Linked DNA regions of Homo sapiens: region 2 is linked to region 1. A link means that fine-mapping ties the variant in region 1 to the expression of a gene that starts in the linked region. Tissue or cell type: monocytes. Region 1 holds a variant in brackets; the other region holds the start of a gene. All regions are shown on one strand. Distances are from middle to middle.

Evidence for each region. PIP is the estimated chance that this variant, and not a neighbour inherited with it, causes the effect.
Region 2: SH3PXD2A starts here. The variant in region 1 is fine-mapped to the expression of SH3PXD2A in monocytes (CEDAR, PIP 0.95).

Annotation. Positions count from the first base shown.
Region 1 is chr10:103,694,765-103,702,869 of GRCh38, reverse strand. The region is part of intron 5 of SH3PXD2A (SH3 and PX domains 2A); the gene reads left to right. Among named protein-coding and RNA genes, the nearest start is that of SH3PXD2A-AS1, 48 kb to the left of the region's middle. RefSeq lists a cis regulatory region at 6,227-6,237, enhancers at 6,160-6,304, 6,740-6,849, 6,414-7,160 and a silencer at 6,470-6,529. The variant C/T (reference allele first, on the strand shown) is at 3,512.
Region 2 is chr10:103,850,613-103,858,699 of GRCh38, reverse strand. It overlaps SH3PXD2A (SH3 and PX domains 2A), which reads left to right and starts at 3,124. Exons shown (of 15, transcript NM_001394015.1): 1 at 3,124-3,505. The coding sequence starts at 3,434.

The DNA of each region.
Region 1 (8,105 bases):
CTGGCTCCCCCGACACAAGTCCTCACCCCACCACCTGAACAAGGGAAACCAGAAGGAGCTAGAAATGTGATCCTCAGGCACAGAGCTGGTGCCACAGCCTTCAGGGAGAATCTCTCTTTAGGAATACTGCCGCTGGGTTGTTCTCAGCAACTTCCTTCTAAAATCTGAGCTGCTTCCTCTGGGGCTCAGTCCAGCCCCAGCTGCCTGTCCTGCTCCCCCAAGACATACAGCCTTCTTGCCCTCCGCACCCAGCATGCACACACACACACACACGCACACACACAGGCTTACATCTGTTCCTGCCCCTGCACCGTTGCTCACACCATCCCTTCCACCCCAAATCTCCTTCCTGCTTCTGCTCTTTTTAAACAGTCTTCATCTTTCAAGGGCTAGCTCTAGTGCCCCATCTTCCACATAGCCCTCCCTGACCACCCCAGACCACTCTGATCTCCCTGTCCTGGAAATTTCTATACAGTGTTTCCTTTGACCAAGCTTTGGGGCACCTGATCACAAGGGAACTTGTATGTTGTCTTTTCGTGGGTGTTTGCCATCTCTTTCCAGCTAGATGGACAAAAAAATGAAAAAGAGGGCAGGACAGTGTGTCTTCTGCCACTCTCTTACTTCATACACAAGACTGGGTCTACAACAGACCTTCAGTCAAGATGTGGATGGATGGTGGATGAATGATGGATGGATGGATGGTGGATGGATGGTGAATGGATGATGGGTGAATGGTAGATGAATGATGGATGGATGATGGATGGATGGCTGGATGATAGGTGGATGGATGATGGATAGATGGATGGATGATGGTGGATGGATAGATGGATGATGGATGGTGGATGGATGATGGTGGATGGATAGATGGATGGATGGATGGATGGTGGATGGATGTTGGATGGATGGTAGATAGATGATGGATGGCTGGATGAAGGATGGATGGATGGTGGTTGGATGATAGATGGCTGGATGGTGGATGGATGGATGGATGATAGATGGATAGATGGTAAATGGATGGTGGATGGATAGATGGTAGATAGATGATGGACAGATGGATGACTGGATGAAGATAGATGGATGGATGATGGATGGTGGATGGATGGCTGGATGGATGATGGACGGATGGATGGCTGGATGAATGATGGATGGATAAATGATGGATGGATGGATGGCTGGATGAATGATGGATGGATGGATGATGGATGGATGGTGGATGGATGGATAGATGATGGATGGATGGTGGATGGATGGATGATGGATGGATGATGGATGCATGATGGATGGATGATGGATGGATGAATGGATAGATGATGGATGGGTAGTGGATGGATGGATGGTGGATGGATGGATGATGGATGGATGGATGAATGGATGGATGATGGATGGATGATGGATGGATGATGGATGGATGATGGATGGATGAATGGATAGATGGTGGATGGATGGTGGATGGATGGATGGTGGATGGATGGATGATGGATGGATGATGGATGGATGAATGGATAGATGATGGGTGGATGGTGGATGGATGGATGGATGAATGGATGGATGATGGATGGATGAATGGATGGATGATGGATGGATGAATGGATAGATGATGGATGGATGGTGGATGGATGATGGATGGATGATGGATGGCTGGATGGTAGATGGATAGATGGTAAATGGATGATGGATGGATGGATGGATGGTGGATGGATGGATGGATGGATGGATGGATGGATAGTGGATGGATGATGGATGGATGATGGATGGCTGGATGGTAGATGGATAGATGGTAAATGGATGATGGATGGATGGATGGATGATGGATGGATGGATGGATGGTGGATGGATGGATGGATGGATGGTGGATGGATAGATGGATAGATGGTAAATGGATGATGGATGGATGGATGGTGGATGGATGGATGGATGGATGATGGATGGACTTGGAGAGAGTCAGGGAAGGTCTTTAAATATAGGATATCCTCCTTGACCTTCTCCTCAGGGACTTCATTGTTGAACCCCATCACCCCATTTTGTCACTCCCCCTCCCATGGTTCCCTAGGTCTGGCATGTAGCCCCTGGAAGTCCAGGGAACCCCCATAGCCAAGAACAGTCTGGCATTTACACAGGGAGCAGGATCTCAGGTGGCCTGAGGAGGAGCTCCTAGCACTCCATGGCAGTGGGCTGAACTGGCAATCCCCTGCCCCATTTTGCCCTCTAAGAAATCAACTGTGTATTCCTGCCATCCTCCCCACTTCCCCTAACCCTGCCTCCTCCCACTCCCATGGACTGCTGCTCAGTGTCACCATCTAGGTGGGACTCCTTGGAATGCACCTGATGGGAACCCAGGCCTGTCTGTCATCATGGTCCTGCATCAGTGCCCTGAGTGACAGAGCCAGGGTCTCACACAGGCCACACTGAGAAGGTAGGCAGTCAGCACCTCCTGCATTGCGGCCACCATCCACACTCCTAGTCTAGCCCCCTGTGAACCCAGGCTATTGGGCTACGGGTCCTTTCCATGGGCCAGATGCCATTTAAGAGCTTTGCACATTATCCCATGTAATCCCCACGACAGCTCTGTAAGATAGCAACTATTTTAACCCCCTTTTACAACCGAAGGTACAGAGAGGTGAAGTCACTTGTTTATATCACAAAGCACTAGGTGGCTGAACCAGGGTTCTAACCCACCTGCCCTTTTAACTCCCTGCTCTGAGGCCTGGACATGGTAAAACTTGTCCTGTGGCTGAAGACACACTTAGGGCCTTTGCCCAGAATAGTGGAACAAGTCAGAGGAGACAGACAGACAGTGCTTTGTTCTTTTGCTGTGGACAGGGCAGCAGCAGAGACCCTCTGGGATGTTCAGGAGACAAAATGCCTGGGGGGCGGGGTTCTGGGGTCTATGATGGCCATAGCATCTGGCCTCTCTGGGATGCAGCCTGGGGAGCCCCAAGACCCCTTCTCTCCGCAGGAATTCAGCTTTTTCACCCAGGGCAGGAATTCCGGCCCCTCTGGACAAGCCACATGGTCACAATGGGGTCCATTCTCAGAACCCTGGAAAACACAGGCCCTGCGGAGAAAGGACAGATTCTTGTTAAACACAAGGGCCCTCAGTGCCACGATTTAGATCAGGGAGCAAATGGGGGCAGAGAATGGCCTGCAGGCCCCTCTGTCTGTCTTGCCTGGAGGTTGCTGCCTCTGGAGGCCATTCCGTGCAAAGGCTCTCAAAAGCCAGAACAAAAACCCAGCTAGGGGCTAAGGGGTGGAAAAAAAACCCCAACTCTCCAGACCTCAGTGACCCAAAGCCCCTTCGCCCAGCCCTTTGCTCAGACCTTCCTCACTTGGTTTCTGGAAGAACATGCTCCATCTCACTATGGAGGTTTCACAGATAATTCGAATTCTCACAATAGCCCTGTGAGGACACTCAGAGTAGCCTCCTGTTAGGACTGGGGAATCCGAGGGCTCCTGCCACAGTGGGAAATATCACACTGCAGCTCGATACGCAGACAGACATCTGATGCAGGTG[C/T]CACAAAACAGCCTTGCCAGGGGTGACTCGCTGATCATTTCTAGTCTGTTCTTCTTAAAATGCTCATTGGGACCATTAAATTGATTCTGAAACTCACTAATGGGTCACTGCCTGTCATTTGAAAAGCACTAGTTTGAAGTGGCTTGTCCAGGGTCACCAGCCCCTGAGGGGGCAGAGCTGGGCCCAGAACCCGGGTCTGTGGACATTCAGCACTGGACTTTGACAGCCCCTCTCCTGCCCCCAACCCCCAGCTGTCAACCTCTCCTCTTAACAAAATTTTCCTCCAGCCAGGATCTGACCAAATCACTCCCCAATTCTGCAAACTTCTGGATTTCACAGCCAGACATCAAAGCCCTGCTCAGCCTTGCCTTTCCTGGCCCGTCCACCCACTACCCTCACTGCCCAGTCCACAACTGTTTGGAGCTGCTTGCTCCTGCTTGTAGAGCTTTCCCCCTGCATCCCTCTATGGATCCAAACCCCCTTGTCCTTTAAGGCCTCCTCCTCCAGGAAGCTACCTGGGATGTTCTGTAGCCCCCAGGACCTCTCTTTTCTCTGCACTGAGTGTAACCCCTCCTGTAATTCTCAGCGTGGATTGTCTGAGAATGTTGGCTTTCTCGTTGGACTTATGTCACATATATCTCTTCTGCCTGCCTGCACAGGCCTTAATGAGGTTGCCTACAGCGAGAGCTTAAAAAGTGCTTTTAGGTTGATAACAGCAGTCAAAATCATTATGTACCTCAAGAGCCCCACGTCACTCCCCTGGCCAAGGTTGCATCTTCTCCAGCCCTCATATTCTAGATAGTGCCCATGTCCCCAGTGACTGCTGGGCTCTGAAGGTCACCCCCAAGTCAGCTGTCTGGCAGCCCAGCCGGCCTCTTGAGCAGTTCCCAGTGGCTGTAGGCCCCGCAGACAGGCATCCTGGGCCCAGCAGCCAATGTCAGCTGGCAGACAGAAGGGTGAGAACATCAGGCTGGAAGTTTGTGTGTGTGTCCTTCTCTGCCAAGGCACTTGCCAGTGGGAGGGAGAGTGGTGAGGGGTGTGGCGGGCAGTGGAGGGTACAACCCTGCAGCATTCAGCAGAACTCCACCTGGCAGGTACTCAGCACCCTTCCACAGAGCCGGCCCAGCCAGGCCCAGCCCCCTTTCCTCTCTCTCCCGTGCCTCAGTGGCTCTTCCTGGCTTCACCTCTCACTCTGGGAACTCTGAACGGCAGGATGGCAATCTCCATTCCCCAGCGAGGGCCTGCTGCCCGCTGCTGGTGTGACCTCTCCTTGTGGCCAAATCCCTAGTGGGCCTCAGCGTGGCCCCTTTGGAGCATTGTGGGTCAGGGCTGTCTGTTTAGCTTCAGGAGCCTGGGCCAGCCACTGAAGCCTCAGACCTCAATCTCCTCATCCATGAAATGGGTGAGCACCTGCTCTGCCTACTTCAGAACACCAAAGAATAAATCCTGGGAGTTTTCAAGGGGAAGGCAGAGTGTGGGGAGCCATGTGTCAAAACAGGGGAACAACACATGTGAATTGTTCAGTGCCTTTCCTGCCCCCACCAGCCTCTCCCTGTGCAGTCTCCAACACCAGCCATTTCACTAGAGCATCCGGGGAGGGAGCACAGCGTGTCTGGCCAAGATAAAATGAAAGGAAAAAAGAAAAACCCTTTCGGGTCTACATTAGCATAAAAATGCAAGCCCTTTACATCTCTTGGTTTTGGGGCTCTGAGAGTTGGCCACTCCTTGGGAGGTTAAATGTGTCCTAATAGAGGGGTCCAGAGGCGTGCGTCCATTCCTGTGGGTCAGGGATGAACACACTTCCTGGTGCTCGGCGCTAGACAGAGACCAGTGGTTGTTCTGGCATTTGCGAAAGCCCAAAACTCTGAAAGTGGGGCTGGAATCACACCTGCCTGGCACTGTCTGCCAGCATCGTGGTGAGGTCCTTAAGGAGAAGCTCCTTTTGTTTCAGGGGCTCTGTAGGACCCAGGTTTAAACAGGTCTTTGCCACCTGTGTAGCAACTGAGGTGGGTCAGATGGGCCCAGGTATGAAAGAATAACAACAAAGACAATTTATAGCAGTTTCTGTGCCGGCCACTGTGCGAAGCCCTTTCTACACACTGTACATTGCATCTTCCCCAAACCCCAGGGGTTTGGTGCTATTATTGTCCTCGTTCTACAGATAGAGAAGTAGAGGCTCAAGAGGCCAAGAAAGTAGATCAAGGGCACCCCCCTGCCCCCACTGCAAGCAGCAGGGATTTGAACTGGAGGCCTCCGTCTCCAGAACCTGCTCATCCAAACATAGCTTGCATCATCCTATGGGGAGGGGCCAAGAGAGGAACCGTATCACCCGGGGATGGGGCGGGGTGGGAGTAGAGGCCCCAGGAGTCCTTGTTTAGATGGGGAGGGATGGAGTGCTGGTTGGAGGAACTCCACCCCTCTTTCCCAGCCAGGCCAGACCTGTGGACCACAGGAGATCACCCATCCCAGTTTGTCCAGTTTGAGCCCTGAAAGTCCCATGTCCCTGTTTTCCTGGGACTGTGGGTCACTGTACCTGTGGTTTGAGTCACCCCTGGACCAGCTGCAGAGAATGAATGGCTGAGTGGTCTGATGGGAGCTGTTTTAGGACACAGCTTGGGAGGCCTTTTCAATTACATTAGCCTCTGGCAACGCTAGAGGGAGATGCTAGCCCCGCCCTTCCTCCCCTCCTCTTCTTCCTGTGGCTCCCTGGCCGATATGATTCAGCAGCAAGTCGGAAGCAGGCTAGACTGTGACCTACCAGGAGTGGAGTCACCGGCAGGGTGGGGGCTGTCAGCACCAGCTCAGGGCAAGACTTGGAGCAAGGACGGAGTGTGGATTGGAGAAGGGGACTGATGGGAAGAGGGGGGGTTCTTGAGTTGTTAGGGAACTGAGCCCCAGCAGAGGGCCCTGCTGTCCTGCCAGACTGGAACTGGTTATAGGGCAGTGGGAAGTGGTCATGGTGTGAAGGGGGATCCCTGCCTTTGCGTCTTGCCCTCGTATGTGAGGGATGGGAGAGTCCCAGCCACTGGATACCTAAACTGCTTATCACCCTATTCAGCAGCTAAAAATATGAAATGGCTTTGCTAAAGGATGCCCAACTGGAAACTTCCAGAAGGTCTCCTATTAGGGCAGCGCCTGCTCGGGCAGGCCAGACACCCTGAAGGATTCAGGATTCCTCTTCGTTCCCACCATTCAGTCACAGCCTGGTGACCCCCACTGCCAGGACCTCAGCCTCCACCCCATTAACCCCATGTGCTGATCAGGCCCTCTGGGCTCTGCCTTCTACTCCTGCATCCACTACTCCAGGAAGGGGTGGTAAGTGGGCATTTGTCTTGAGCCTCAGAGCAAGGCCTGGGTTTTCTGGTCCCCAGTCCTGGTCTCACCCACTCACTATGGCCTTGAGGAAGTTGTCCGGCTTCTCTAAGCTTTGGTCTTCTCACCTGCAAGAGGAGAGCCCACACCCCCTGCAGGGAGGGACCCGGAAGTCCTCGGTGGGGAGGACTCTGAACTCTGGCTGAAGGACAGGCAGGCCAAGAGATATTTTCTAGAGGCTCCTTCAGCACTACAAGCACGTTGTTCTTACTGAGCATAAATGTTTCTTAGGGGTGGCTGGAGGCCTGATGGAGATTATGCAACACTGGAGCAGCCTCAGAATCCCCAGGGGAGTTTGTTGGAGATGCAGACCATGCAGTAGGTTGGGGTGGGGCCCTGCATCTGAATTTTAACCACTTTCTAGATGATTCCATTGAATAGCAGGCTGAGAATCACCAACCAGGGCCTGGCACAAAGGAGGCCCTCCAAGCATGTGAGTTTTGTGTCTTCCCCACTCTTTTTTTTTTTTTTTTCTTTTTGAGACAGAGTCTCACTTGTCACTCAGGCTGGAGTGCAGTGGCACCACCACAGCCCACTGCAGTCTTGACCTCCTGGGCTTCAAGCAATCCTCCCACCTCAGCCTCCCTTGTGGCTGGGAGTACAAGTGCTTGCTACCATGCCTAGCTAATTTATTTTTGGTAGAGATAGGGGGTCTCACTATGTTGCCTAGGCTGGTCTCAAACTCCCTGTCTCATAGGAACAGCCTGGGTAGCCTCAACCTGCTCAGAGCTGGAGAAGGCAGCCATTCCTGTGAGGCAGCCACCCCTGCCTGGGCTACTGGCAGCCAGGGGGATGGTCAGTGGGCCATCAGTCCTGGGCTTCTCCTGCCAGGACCAGCAGGAAAATTGTGGGACAGCAGAGGGTAGCTCCTCAGTGCCCTCACTCCCTGCCCTTCCCCAGTAGCCCTCAGTGAAAAGGCCTGAAAAGCTAATTTCCTCCTTGGGAGTGGAAAGTCTTCTGGGCAGGACACAGCTACGATCTAATACTCTCCTCCTCCTCTCAGGAATTCCCTGCACAGTTGAGCTTTTGGGGGGCACAGCTAGGACTCAGTCTCTGCCCAGTCTTCCTTCTGCAAGGGGGGCAAGCATGCCTTTGTTAAGGCCTTCCCTGGACTGACTGGTGGGAGCCAGGGGAGGGGGCAAATGGAAGCTCTCCCACCTTTCTGTAGTCCCTTTCCAAGGCAACGGTTTCCCAGATTCTCCTCCACACCATCCACGCTGCA
Region 2 (8,087 bases), 160 kb before region 1:
CCCTACATGGGAGAGGAGGTAGGGCGGGTTCTGCTTTAGGGGAGCTGATGGAATTTGCACGTACACAGAGGACCATGGAGACACACACGGCCTCTGCTCTAGAGGATTGTACAGTCCTCTTTATTGGGAAGTCCAGGCATCACGAGTTCATATGCTTGTGTGAATGGAGAACTGGAACCAGGGACTCCAGGGTTTGAGTGAATGCAACATTCTAGACCTGCAGGTGTGCTAAGTGTGCCCTTTAAACAAGCTCTTCTTGCCCTAGTATAGGCACATAAATGTGGAGGGGAAAGACAGCGGGCTTTGGACTAACTGGCTATGTGGCATCAAGCAACTTGCTTAGTTTTTCTTGGCCTTGGTTTCTTCCTCTGTAAAATAAGAGAAATAAATAACCTCTCTTGTCCCTTCTAGTTGGAAAGTTCTTTGATTCTAAGCATTCTACAATTACCTGTTTTCGAAAATCAGATTTTCAGGTATCAGTTTGCATCTTTATGTTGGCTTCTCTTTCCCTTACTTATCCTAAACTTAAAAAAAAATTTGCAATTATATTTTGTCATTTTTAACTCACACAATGTCCTTAGGTTGGAGTCATCTCCAGTTCATGGGCGGAGGTGGCAAAATAGGGGTTTCTCTAATCCTTTCTAGCACTAGCTCTTTGAGCAGATGTTTTCAACACAGGCCATCCTATATACCTACTGTGTGCCACGCATAGTTGGGGTATTTAATGAATGATGCACAGTCCTTGTTTCCAAGGAAACTTCCCCCAGTCTCTGTCATTTTTGGGGGATTGCCAGGCACATGTGAGGCATTCAATAAATGTGTATTGAACAGAAAGGAATTCCCAAGGCACTGTGGGAAATAAATCTGCATGAGGTTGAAATGTACCCAGAGAAGAGATAGCCTGCACCATTTCATACTTAAATCCCCTTGGACATACGGCCCCAGTACAGAAAAGACATTTTTCTCCCACAGGTAGAAATAACTTCTGCCCAGATCTTGGCACCATGGGGTTGAGTGGGGAGCACTCAGTTGCTCCCTCCAATAAAGGTAATTACGGAACAAAGGGGGAAGTTGGGAGTATGCTCAAGTCAGGCTTAAAGGCCTGAATTTATAAAATGTCAAGTTGCAGGGAGTCTTTTAGGCAGGAGAAAGGCTACCACTTTGTAGGCCGCTAGGAAGTGGGGAAGAACTGGGCCCTCTCTCCTACAAATTTATTGTGCTTGGTGTGTTCATTGTGGATCTGGGTCCGAAAGAAGGGTAATAAGGAAACCACTAGTGCTGTTTTAGATGAGCTGACTGCTTTGATTCACAAGGGGACCCAAATCAAACTAAACCCCCTCCTCTTCTTCCCCCCACAACAGCTAAACACCAGCTCCCCTCGCTGGTGGCTTCTCAGGTTTTATTAGCACTTCCAGAAGACTTTGCCATCCACAGAAGACGAGTTATCCGAGAGCCATGATGAATCTCTTCCTCACAAACTCACAGGCTGTCTTGATCCATCATCAGAGAGGACCTGGAGCTGGCCAGCACCCTCCCAAGTTCGGGAGCTCAATATGGAGGGCCCGTTCCAGGTCTACCTCTCATCCCTTCAGGGAATAATCCTTGCTCATGGAGGTAGTGCCCTGTCCTCCCATTTTCCCATCAGCTGAGCAACATTACCAGGTGCACCTTCCCCCAGGACTCCTGCTCCAACATTCACAAAGGTTTTCTGTCATCTTCTCTGACCAAGAAGCTCTGGCCTGGTGCCAAGATCTCTCACAGTCTGAGCCCCCTAGGCCCATCCATCTTTTTTTTTCTTTGTCCCGTGCCATCGTTTGGTGTCCTAGCGCCCTTCCCCAGGAAGGTTGGAGGAATAGTGGGTTACTCTGTATGGAGCAAATATGTGAATAAATAAAGCCTTAGATCTGTGCCTGGGTTCTGACAGTCTAGAGAACGCGCAGAAGAAAGTATTAATGCAATTAGGTCACAAAATTATTTGTCCTCTTTTCAGATGTTTCACATTGGTCCACAGTCACAAAGCTTTATTGTGATTGTGTAACAACTGGAGTAGTTGTGAAAACACTACCCTTTAAATGTTTGAAAGCAGAATGGGAAAAAAATGTTGAACTAGAAGGGGGGAAGCTACATTGAATTAAGTAGTAACTGTGCTCCAAGTCCAGGGACCACGGACAAGTGGCTTGGAAAGTGGGTTTTCCAGACTAGAGGGAGGGGTGAGAATGCCAGAGCCTGGGGCTCACGGTGAGCTGGCCTCCAACCGGGTGGGTTTTCCCACCATTGTATGCTCCTTTCCCTGTCGCCAGCTTGGGGAGGGTCCCCAGGGGAGCCCTGGGCTTAAGGCAGTGGTGTTATGCAGAGTCTGTAACGTTGTCATTGGTAAATGATGCACAGGGTAGTTACACAAGCCCAGATCGATGGACGACTCAGGCAACGAATCGATCACTTTTCCGGGGAGAATTCACCCTTTATGACCTGCAGAGGGTCAGGTGGTTCGTCCAAAGAGGCTCTGGCTTGAAGGATTTAAAGCTGGCCTTTTCCCCATTCCCATCTCCTCCTCGGGGGCCTGGGCAGTAACAGCCGGGTAATAAACTACTTCTCATTAAAGAGATCTGGGGGTGGAAGTTGTAGGGGGACATAAAAGTGGGGACAAAAAGGCACAAATCCGCTCCGAGGCGGAAAGCCAGGATGGGGGCGCGCGGGGCTCACTTTCCCCGCTCCCTCTCCCCCCGAAGCCACCCTGAGTTTTTGTGCCTAGCGAACTAGCCCGGTGCTGCGCCAGGCCGCTGGCTGCGCGCTGGGCTCGGGTGGGGGCTCGTCGGCCCGCCCCTGCCACTGGGGCCGGGCTGCAGCCCCCTCCCCGTCGCCCCGAGCCCCTCCCCCGGCCCGGAGCCCCTCCCCGCGCGCTTCCCCTCTCTCCCCTCCCTCCCTTCCCTTCCCTGCCTGCCAGGCCCTGCCTCCGCCTCCTGCGCCCACAGCCTCCGCCAGCGCCGATCCCCCCGGAGCCCGAGCCGGAGAGCGGCGAAGGGGAGCCGCCGGCCCCTCCCCAGGACGCTGACAGCAGGCTCCGGGGCCCCCGCCCCGTCCCCTCGCCGACGGGACACACCCCCGCCCCTCCTCTGCTCCGCCAGTTCCCGCCGGACCCACCGGGCGGCGGAGAGAGCGAGCGGGCGAGCGCAGCGCGGCGGCCGCGCGGGAGTGAAGGGGCGCGCGGCAGGCCGGCGGGGAGTCCCCCGGGGCGCACGGAGCCCGCGCGCCCTCCGGGACCCTCCCCCGTCCCTGGGCCGGACCTGTGGGCGCCGGGAGTCCGGGCAGCGTTCGGCGCGCCGGGCCGGGGTGGCGGGCGGCCCCGGGACCCCGGCAGCTGGAGAAGGAGCCGGAGCCCGGCCGGGATGAGAAGGTGACGCCGCCGGGGGCGCCACTCGCTTTGTGGGGGAAGATGCTCGCCTACTGCGTGCAGGATGCCACCGTGGTGGACGTGGAGAAGCGGAGGAACCCCTCCAAGCACTACGTGAGTACAGCCCCCGCCGACCCTGCTGGGGGTGGCCCGAGGTCCCGGGAGGGCCCCGGATGGCCCCTTGCCCCTCCCAGCTGTGAGGTCGCGAAGCTAAGCGCCCACTGGGCAGCCAGCAGCCGTGGAGTTTCTTCGCAGGGCTGTGATCTCCAGGGAAGCCTCTTCTGTCCTTCCTCCTTCGCACCCCCGCCCCCCCGGTTTCTTTTTTTGGCATTGGAATTGGCAAGTGGCTGCCCTTGTCTGTTACAACGGTGAAGTCATCTGTCCGCCTTTGATGGATGGTGGGGGGAGCTTTCGTCAACCCCTCACAGAGCAGCCCCGTCGGGAAAGCGCATCTCCTCGGCCCTCCCCAGGGGCCCTGGGCGCTCACGCTCACACAGCCCGAGATGCTTTCAGAGCTCGCCCTGGAGAAGGAAGCCTCGCGCCCTGCCTCCCACGCCAGCTCTGTCTCTGCCTTCCTAGGCCTGGGGCTGGGGGCAGAAGGAAGCCGCCGCCCCCTTGCCCAACCTCCACCCTCCGCGCTAAGCTTTGATTTCCCTCATAAAGCCATTGTGTCCGTCGGTGTGAGGAGAATTGTGGCTTTTCCTTTTATCCCTCCTCTGGACGTGACCCTTAACCGGGTTCATTTCCTCTTAAGTGATGCTCCATCTCCAGACACGAGGAGGCGAATGTTTGCTGTGGTCTCCGAGGAACCGCCCCTCCCCCTTCCTCCCCCAAACTTTAATGAGAAGGGGTTAAGGTTGACTGGGGCAGCTCCAGAGCCTATGTGACAGTTCCCCTTTCATCTCAGCCGGTCCTGTCTTCCCATCCCTCACACCTTAGGAAGTAAACACGGTGTCCTTGACCCCTCTGAGCGTCTGTGCTCCTGTACTTGAGATAGAAGAGACCCAAGCACAGAGGACTGCATGTTATTTGCAAATTGGGTATTTAGAGGAGCAGTTCCAGTGCTCAAAGCATTAATCTTAACAGTTAAAACAGGCGCTGGTTGCTGCCCTGGATTGTACATTGATCTCTGAAGTGCCTTTTCTTCCACTGTTGCAAAGGGACTGGGGTTTGTGGCAATGTCAGCCTCGGGCTACTCTTTTTGCCTTTGTCACCAGTGTAGCTCTGAACTTTGAGTTTCTTTACAGCTGAGCAAATGCGGCTGGGCTCATATGGGGAGGAGGTAAATGTGGAGGCAGGTTGACTAGGCAGGGAGGTGGGTGCCTGTCGGGTCCAGTCCCTGACACCCTTAGAGAGTTGTTTCTTTTGTGTCATCTGGTCCAGCAAGCATTTTCTGCTGCTGTTACAAGAAAGCTCTTTTTGGAGGGCTTGGGTCACCAGGTGGTCAACCTGCTCTGTGGACAGATGTCCCTTTGTATATCCCAGGGTTTATTTTTCTCAAATGTTGCAGGCTAAGTTTTAAGGGTTCTCATTTGTAGTCCTCAGCTGAGCTTGGCACTGCATTCAACAGATGGCACTCTGCTCTGAGACCCAGGCAGGTGCGTTTCCAACTCTGGATTTTAAATGAAACATCACATTTCAGCTCCCACCGATGGTGCCCAAGGTTGCAGATGCAGGACACACTGGTAACAAACTAGAACCGGGGCCCACTGCAGACAGGATTGAAAGGCAAGATTGCGTGCTGGGGTTCTGAAGTTAGACGGTCTTGCTCAAAGCCTGGCATGCAGCCAGTAACTAGCTGTGCCACCTTGGCAAGTTATTTAAACCTCCCCCAGCCTCAGTTTACTCAATTTCAAGTAAGGATAATAATAGTATGTACTTGTTGGGAGAATTAAATGAGATCATCTATGTAAAGCACTTAGCCCAGTTCCTGGCACGCAGTAAGCTCTTATTAAATGGTAGCTTATTATTGGTGAGATTCTGACTAAGAAAGTATTTTTGAAAAGCAGCTATTAATGGTCTGGCAAAAAGGAAGAAAGATTTTGGGTTTTAAGATTGATAATAACTTGTTCTATGTGAAAAACACAAAAGAAGTCCTGTCCAGTTCCCTCGAAATGATCATTTCCTTCCTTTTTACAGACAAAGTGTTTCCCGGGACATCTCCGCTTCCCGAGTAAGAATCGATGACATTATGTTTGGGGGGGCAGGGAGTGATGTCACTGAACAGATGGGGCCATGCAGAGTTCTGAACTAGAGTTCTGGAAAACACTGAGAGGAGAAAGTGTTACATGTTGTGGAATTGTGGAACGGGCAGAGACCCGAAGACTCATCTGGCTCAACTCCTTCATTTTACAGATGAGGAAATGGAGAGCCAGATTGGGTAAAGTAACTTGCAACACAGCTGCTCACAGCTGGGTTTTTTTCATTGCATGTACCCTAAGTCCAGTTGGGTTTGGCTAAGAGGACAAATAACTGGTGGTCAAAAAGTTTCTACCCATTTGGGGCATTGTATATATTAATACATAACATAAGCATATCCAATAATTGAAAGGGGGAAAGAAAGCAATAGAAAGGGCCTGGTGGGACAGACAGGGGCAGGAGGAGCGGGTTTGGGGAGGCTGCAGCCTCTTCCTCTCCTGGCCCTTGCACGGTGAATACCACACACCAAAAGCTCAAGTGTTGTGAGTAAGGCCCTCTGGTGTGGTCAGCTGGCAGGACGTGCTGCACCCATTGCCTGTGTTCTGGAAACCCTCTACACTGGAGGAGCAAGCCTCCTTCCAGCCTTTCCTCTGCTGATGGTGAATTCTGAGTCTGTGGTTTGGTAAATTGCAGAGCAGAGAGGTTTTACGGGATGTGCGTGTTAGCCAGAGCTAGCCGATGAGAGGCCTGGGGCCCACGCAGGAGGAGCTCTGCTGGCTCCAGAGTGCTGGGAACACACTGCAAAGGTTCTCTCAGGACATTCTGCAAAGGGTTTGCTCATCCCCACGGGGAGGGGGAGCTGCCTGAACACGAAGGGTCCTGTGCTTTCGGTCAGTTCATGAAGGCACGCAAGTAGCTTCCATCATGGGGATGGCACTCAGCCCTGGCTTCCTTCTTCTCTGCCAGGCCCCTGCTTGGGGTGGGGTTGAGAAGGGCAGGCAGCTGCTACTAAGGTCAGGCTCCCTGGCATGAAGCTAGGCTCCTTTCCTGGCTTTCTGAGCTGTGCCTGGGGAGACCCTAGGTAAACTGGCTTTGGCCTCTGACCGCTTGTCTTGAAAATGGTCCTGATGATGCTGGATGCAGAATGCAGATTCCTTCGTTTGAAAGTTTTTCAGTAAAGATTTGAATTCAGGTCCACCGGGTTCTTTGTGCTCACAGGCAGGTATAGGTATATATCAATTCATGTGGTAGAGAAAAGCTCGTTTATCTAAAACAAACAAGAAATTGTATCTATTTGGATTTGGGAGGTATTGCACTTTCACAGTTGTTTTATTTCCTGATTGTTTATTTCAGACAAATACCAATCATGAATGTTCTGATCCTCTGCAGGACTCTTTGGGGAATGCAAATAATAGCCAGTTTAGCAGTTACCATCGATGGTGAAACATACTTAACACTCGTGTTTTCGTGTGATTCCTGCAGGTCATTGAATGTACCCTAATGTGGGGTAGGTTTTTGGATTCTGTTTTACAGATGAATTAACTGCAACTTGGAGCAATTCACCAACTTGCTTAGGGTCTCGCAGCTGGCACAGGGCAGAGCTAGGGCAATGCAGGTCAGGTTAGCTCCAAAGGAGGATGTGGATATAAGGTGGGGCCCTTCTCTTCAATTAGAATCCGGGCAGGAAGGCCAGGCTCAGCCCTGTTCCATGGTGACAGAGCAGTACAGGGTTGTCTTTAGGACTGCCTCACTGTAGAGACATCTACCATGTGCCCTGCAGGTGAGTTCATGGTGGGCAACGCAGGCGGGTCACTGTGAGGCAGGAGGAGTAGAGCAACTTCAGGCTGGTATCTGGTCCCCAGTAATGCTTAGGGTAATAAATTAAGGGTTGACCTTGTGGACATAATATATTCTTCCTCTGTTTAGATCATCCCAGATTTTATTCTTGGTCCTGGGAGCTACATGCTTAGGAATTGGCCCCAAACTCATTCATTTCTGTGCCCTTCTTTTTTTTTTTTTTTCTCAGCCCTTAGATTGTGACTCCAGCCCCACAGGAATGAGAATGTGCAGCCACAGCCTGCAAGGGTCTTTTTCAGGGCCAGTTCCATTATGGAATGAGTATGGTGTTGGGCAGATCAGTGCTTGAATCCTACCTGTGGCACTTCCTAGTTGTGCAACCTTGGGCTGTCACTCTGAGCCTCAGTCTCCTCACCTGTAACTTCACAGGGCTCTTGGGAAGTTGGCCTGAGATAATTTGGGGTAGTGTCTACCCAGTGCCTGACCTCACCATGGACATGCACCATATACTAGTTGCCATCTGCTGTTCCTGATCACCAAGGCACTGCAGGTGATTTAGGACCCAATCGGTCAATCTGAGAGAAAAGGAAAGACTGAGGCAAGAAGGACGGCCCAGCTTTTCACAGTCTGATGGGGAAGTGGGTTACACGCCCCATGGAAAACACCCAGCCTCCAAGAGGAACAGATAAACACAGAGCAGCTGTTCAGACCTGGAGGGGTTCCTGGAGCTGAGCATTGGGATCTGGTGGTGGCTTTCTGG